Linked DNA regions of Homo sapiens: region 1 is linked to region 2. The links come from fine-mapping of genetic effects on gene expression. A gene starts in region 2. The other region holds a variant in brackets. All regions are shown on one strand. Distances are from middle to middle.

Region 1 (2,895 bases), 51 kb after region 2:
GCTCTTCTGAACTAAGTTCCTGGAAGATAGGCGTTACCACCTCCAGCCCGGGTGTTTATTAACCACTCCCACGGTGGCCACGGAGCAGCCAGGGGTAGTTGTTGCCAGGACGCTGGGCTCACCTTCTGAACTTTGTCCTGAGAACCAGAGCATGGCGGGCCACCCTCATCAGCTTTCCCCAAACCAGCAGGGAGTTGGCACAAGACCAGGGGCTTGGCAAGGGTTGCTTTCCTCTGCTGCAGTGAGGAGCCTCCGTTTAATCCCCACCTCCCCCCTCTGCAGCCACTTTGAAAGAACTGGAGTGAACACAGGCTCCTGGCAGGGAGGAGGTGTCTAAATCACCAGGCTGGCCTCTGGCACCGAGGCCCAAAGCACTCTCACCGCCATTGCCACCCAAACCTGGACTTCCAGACCAGGGCCGCTGGGCTGACAACCATGTGTCAACCTTTAAAGATGAAATAAAACTGCATGAAACCGGGAGGTTTAAAAACCAAAATATAAGGGACCCAGATGGGCGTCTCAATGGTGGAGAGAGACAATGAGCAGAGCTGTGGGGAAGGAAACCCCTGAAACCCTGGCCTGTCACGCGGCATGGATCACCGGCGGACACCAGGCCCGAGGGCAGCTCGCGCATAGGCTGGCGGGAGACCTATAGGCTGGTGCCGAAGATGAGCCGGGCCAGTCAGATGTCCCATTCAGGTTTGGACCATAAACAGAAGAGGGAGGCTCCTTGGAGAAGGGAAATATGGCCAAAAGGTCGTGTGGGTGCCATGGGGCCCCACACAGCATCGTGACCCTAGTCAGGAGGAGCGGAGCAGCGTAGCAGGGAGCAGGCACGGGGAGGAGAGAGGACAGCTTGGAAATGGGTCAAGGAGGCCCCAGTGAGACACAGAGCCAAGATCTTCTAGGCCGCTCTGTGTCCAGGGCCAGCCACAGTTCTGGGATCCAGGAGTCCTGGGGCCCACAGTGTCTTCTTGGATCCCCAAAAGATACTGTGTCCCGACAGGGCCAACATGGGTAGATCTCAGCTTCTTTTGATCCCCCGTGAGAACATCTTAGAATGGGCGTCTGTGGATACTGGAGTCTGTTCTCCTTCCAGGCTCCATGGCTGCCTCGGTTCACAGGCTGGGAGATGAGGAGTGGAGTTGGGGCTGTCACTTGCATGAGACGAGGGTGGGCCTGTGTGGCGAGTATAGAATCAGTCAAACACTCACCTTCTGATGAACTTAGATCAACTTGTGTTGGCTCAACTGCTGGGCATGTTGGGACCTGAGAGTTGGGTAGGCATGTGGGGAGAGGTGGGTATAAGCCTGGCTCCTAAAGACAGTGGCAATCTGCCCAAG[G/A]GGGCTGGTGAGTGCAGGCACAGCTCAGGTGGGAAGGCACACCGGAAGGGTGTTCTGGTCAGCAGTGACAGCAGCTACATCTTTGTTTTGGTATATATATATGTATATGTACCATATATTGGAGATTGGAGGAGAGTCCCTCCCCTCCTGGAGAGAGGGGAGCATGGGGAGAAAGGAAGGATCTCTGAGGCCCAGCTTGATGCTCAGCTCAGGGCAGGAAAATAGCGGGGAAGCCCAGCCTCTTTGCCTGACACACATGGTGGAGAGGTGGAGGGAGACTGAGGCTGAGCCCAGCCTCCAGGTCTACCAGAAATTGAGTTTAAGACAAGACCAACTGCGCCCCAGGCACAGGTAGGGGTGGCTCCTTGAATGCTCCCAGCCATCATCAGGCCTGGAGCAGTGAGCACACAGCCGGGCCTCGCCTCCTGCAGCAGGGCAGGCAGGGCGGCAGGGGAGGGGAAGGGAGCCCAGCCCCAGGTATGCAGCCTCGGTCTGCGGCTGCTCTCCTCACGACACCTGGAAGCTGGGCCGGGGGGCTTTTCTTCTGAAGGTGGGTGCACCCTGTGCTGTATTTGGAGGAAAATTCAGCTGTGCTGACTGGGCAGAACTGCGGGTGGTTCAAGTCTTTGCAGAAGGCCTTGCTCCAGGCTTCCTTCAAAGGCAGGCTCTTTTAGGTCAGTGGGCTGCACTTGAGTATGCATCAGAATCTCCTGGAGGGCTCCTGAAACACAGGCCTGGGCCCTATCACGGAGGGCCCAAAGCAGGTCTTGGGTGGGGCCCAAGAACCTGCATTTATGACAGGTTCCCAGATGCTGCTGCTGTGGCCCCAGGAAACCCTTTGAGAACTGCCACTGCAGGCCATTTCGGTTGGAATTTGATTTGCAAACGTTCACATCTGCAGTTCCTCTTAGAAGGGAAGGCGCCTTCTCAAGCACAAGTGAAACAACTCTCTCCACCTGCTGGTGTGCTGGTGCTTGGGCTGCGGGGAAGGGATGTGTGTGTGAGGCAGAGGCCCTCAATTCCTCCGGGTGGGGTGGGGAGATGGCCTGGCAGTACCCATGGCTGGGGGCAGAGCTATCCTGTGGGCCTGGGGAGCCCGCCTGGGTGATGAGACGTGCTGGCACAGGCTCCGCAGCCGGCAGCGCCTCGTCACAGGGGTGGGCTTCAGAACTGCTTGGGCTGGCATGAGAGGCCGCGGGTGCTGGCTTCCCTGGAAAAGCCACTCAGCTTTGAGACCAGAGAGGAGATGCAGACACAAGCCTTCGTCTTCACCCCTTTTCGAAAGAGAGAAAGCCCGAATCTCAACAACAGAGTGTCTCTATCAGTCCCATGGTTGTCCTCAGCCTGGGGAGAGCCTGAGCCGGCCAGGACAGGCAGCTCTTCCATGTGGCTCCTTGCGGTCCCCACAGTAGTCGCTTTGTGGGGCAGGGAGAGGCGACGGGCATCCCGCCAGTCTCCTGGATACTTCAGGACATGGGTAGGCCCACGGTGGTGTTCCCACGCAGTTTTGGGATGTGCAGTCACCTGAAGGCAGCTGATGTGAAGAAGAGCA
Region 2 (2,878 bases):
AACGTAGTATTGTAGGTTAAAAAAATGACTGTGTTACTTTACTATAAACGTGTTTGAGAATTTTACTTACGATATAGGCGCTCAGAAAACCAATACCTCTCCAACTGGGTACAACCAGTCCCACATTTTTTCATAAGTCATGATGCTTACCTCCCAAAAAGCCAATTTTTAAAAATCAGAATTCAGCATCCCCTCCTATTCAGATTATAGGTAAAGGGAAGGGTCGGTAGGACGATGGCAAATCTAATGGCCAATGTCTTTCTAGGCGAAAGCATCCTTAAGGGCAGGACAAAGACACCACCACTACAAACGAACCTCGTTCAACCTTCAGAACACGGAGAACAAACCAGTTAAAGCAAAACGAACCAACATTGCAGATACGGGAAAAGGGAATTCCTAAGATGGCTCTCCAAATCCGTGCACTCGGCACCTTTCCTCAGTACAACCGCGAAGGCTACGGGAATGCGCCTGCAGAGTGTGGGAACTCCGGGCGCGGGTGCCCACCCCGCCGACTCCCAGGGCGACCCCAGAACGTTCGTTTCAGGCGGGTCACAGCTGCGCCACCCACCAGACCTGTGCCCCAGCGTCCGACCGCGCACCTGAGAGGACCGAGGAGATGACCGGCCCCAAATGCATCTGCTTCTCCCCGCGGCCGCGGAGGCCGAGCAGGAAGGGCCCGCAGGCGGCCCCGGCCCCGCGCTGACAGCCCGGCGCCGCCCCCACCTGCCCGCCTGGGGGGCGCCGCGGCCGGGCGCGCCCGCCCAGCCACTTCCTTCCCCGCCCGCCCGGCCTCGCACCGGCCCGCGGGGGCTGGGAGCCGCGGGAGGAAGGAGGTTTGGCCAGCGGCCCGCGGAGGAAGCCGCCGCCACCTCCCGCCCGCCCTCACCCACCGGCATCATCGCGGGGAGAGTCCGCGACGCCCTCGGCCGCCGCCTGACAGGACGCTCCGCGCCGAGCTGTGCCCACCGCTCCGGCCGCCTCCTAAGGCCGCGCTCCCGCCGCCGTGCTCTCCGGCCCGGCCGCGGCGAGGCGGCAGCTGCGGCGGGCTGCGGGGCTCTCGCTGGCCCTGTCGCGGCCGCCGGCGCGCTGCGTCGCTGTCCCGGGCACCCGGCCGCCGCCGCCGCCGCCTCAACCTCAGCCTCAGCCTCAGCCCCAGCCCGACAGCCTGCGGCCCGCCCGCCCGGCTCGCTCTTCAGCCCCCGCAGGCCCCGCCCCCAGCGCGACGCCCCGCACGGGTCCCGTAGCCCCCTCTGATTGGCCCGGTGGGAGCGGGGGCGGGGAGAGGGGCGGGGCTTCCCGGCTCCGCCCGCTACCCTCGCTCTCAGCGGCGGCCAGGTGCGTGCGCGTCCGCGCTCCCGGCGGCGGGGGAGGGGCGGACGCGCAGTGGGCACCGGTGGCCTCCCCCGCCCTTGCGTGAGCCCCGACTAGGGAAGACCGCGGACGGTGGGAGGACTGAGGCCCGACAGGGAAGGGCCGGCCCGGGTCCCGCAGCGGATCACGGCAGGGCCGGGACTCGAACCCGGGCTCCCGGGGGCCGACTGTGGGCCGGGAGCGTCCCTGCGGCGACGGCGCGCGCCCGCACTCTGACCGCGGCCTGACCCCCGGCTGCCGGCGCGCCGTGGGGCTGCGGCCCAGAGGCCAGTGGGAGGGGCGCGGGGGGCCCCCGGAGCGAGCATGTGACCCGAGGCCGCGCGCTCGGAACCAGCCCCGGCCCGACGCCCTTGGCTGGCACCTGCTTCTCCCCCACCGGCGTCTTCCGCGGCTCTCGGGGCCGCGCCCCCCGCACCAGCTCCCGAGCCTTGGCCTTCGCCCGAGCGATCTCCCGCCTAGAACCCCGCGCCCACCTGTGCCACCTGTGCCCACCTGCGCCAGCATCCCTCGAGGTCCAGCTCCAGCGTCCCCGGGGAGGGTCCGGTCCTCGTCTCCAGGGCCTGGGTCTCTCCCTGCAGTCCCGTCTCCAGAGGCGCCGCCCCCTCGGGCCTGAGCGCCGGAGTGACAGAGCCCTGGGCAGGGCCCTGAGCAGACCCTCAGTAAAGGCTGCCAGGGGGGTAGGCACCCGCTCGGGGCCCCCCACATGGTGCCATTCGCCCGGACCGCGGCGGAGAGCAGACAGGGGGACTGAGGTGCTCCCCGCGGCAGCACCGAACTCCCACGGGCATCAGAAGGCAAGGTCTGCGGATGGCCCCAGACACAGAAGGCGTAAGCCGCCCTGGGAAGCGCCGGCCCAGTGGAGAAGGCCGCCGCGAGGTCAGGGTCAGTCTGGAGCCTGTCTGGTTCTCGGAGAGGCTTCTGGCTGCTGCAGAGTGGGGGCAGAGCAAGGGAGGAGGCCAGGGAGCTCCCACCAGCCCATTCCTGGGGAGCCACCCCTGTCCCTCAGAGGCCACGGGGGCTCGTGTTTGCGAGTGTGGACTTTCCAGTTAGACAGACTTGGTTCAGCACCGCCTCCGCCACACCCTCGCCTGGGATCCTAAACAAGCCGCATCTTCTCTGCATCGTAGTGTGCTTGTCTCTGTGATGGGAGAGTGTAGGGATAATAGTGCCTGCCTCGTGTCAAGAGGCTTTTTCGGATGCGAGGGATGGAAAGCGCCCAGCACAATTTGTGGCACGTGGTAGCTGTTCCATAAATAGCATTCTGTAGTTGGGCCGTGATTAGCAAGGAGGCTTAGTGTACAGACGTCCCTGGGATTTTTAAACCTATCCACACCTGGGCATGAATGGCTAATGACACCCCTCTTCTGGGAGCAGAGTTTGGAGAGAAGAGGAGGCTCTAGATAATGAGTGATCCTAGGCTGAAAGTCAGAGACATACTTAAGTTCTAATTCTAGCTGCTCTGCTTCTGACCTCCTGTGGGGCCTTAGGCAACTTGCACTCCTTCTCT

Direction of the effects. Positions count from the first base shown, and alleles are read on the strand shown. Sizes are in standard deviations (SD) of each study's normalised expression.
As copies of G replace A in region 1, the expression in esophagus mucosa of the gene that starts at base 1,167 in region 2 goes down (moderate effect, 0.46 SD a copy in GTEx).

What was found. PIP is the estimated chance that this variant, and not a neighbour inherited with it, causes the effect.
Region 1: its variant is fine-mapped to the expression of PPP1R13B in esophagus mucosa (GTEx, PIP above 0.99). The same link has a PIP of 0.9 or more in nasal epithelium.

What each region holds. Positions count from the first base shown.
Region 1 is chr14:103,897,119-103,900,013 of GRCh38, forward strand. No RefSeq gene overlaps it. Among named protein-coding and RNA genes, the nearest start is that of ATP5MJ, 23 kb to the right of the region's middle. The variant G/A (reference allele first, on the strand shown) is at 1,344.
Region 2 is chr14:103,846,409-103,849,286 of GRCh38, forward strand. It overlaps PPP1R13B (protein phosphatase 1 regulatory subunit 13B), which reads right to left and starts at 1,167. Exons shown (of 17, transcript NM_015316.3): 1 at 891-1,167. The coding sequence starts at 899. PPP1R13B-DT (PPP1R13B divergent transcript) reads left to right here and starts at 1,313. Exons shown (of 3, transcript NR_038436.1): 1 at 1,313-1,335. RefSeq lists silencers at 677-876, 1,047-1,486, 1,507-1,636, 1,657-1,726.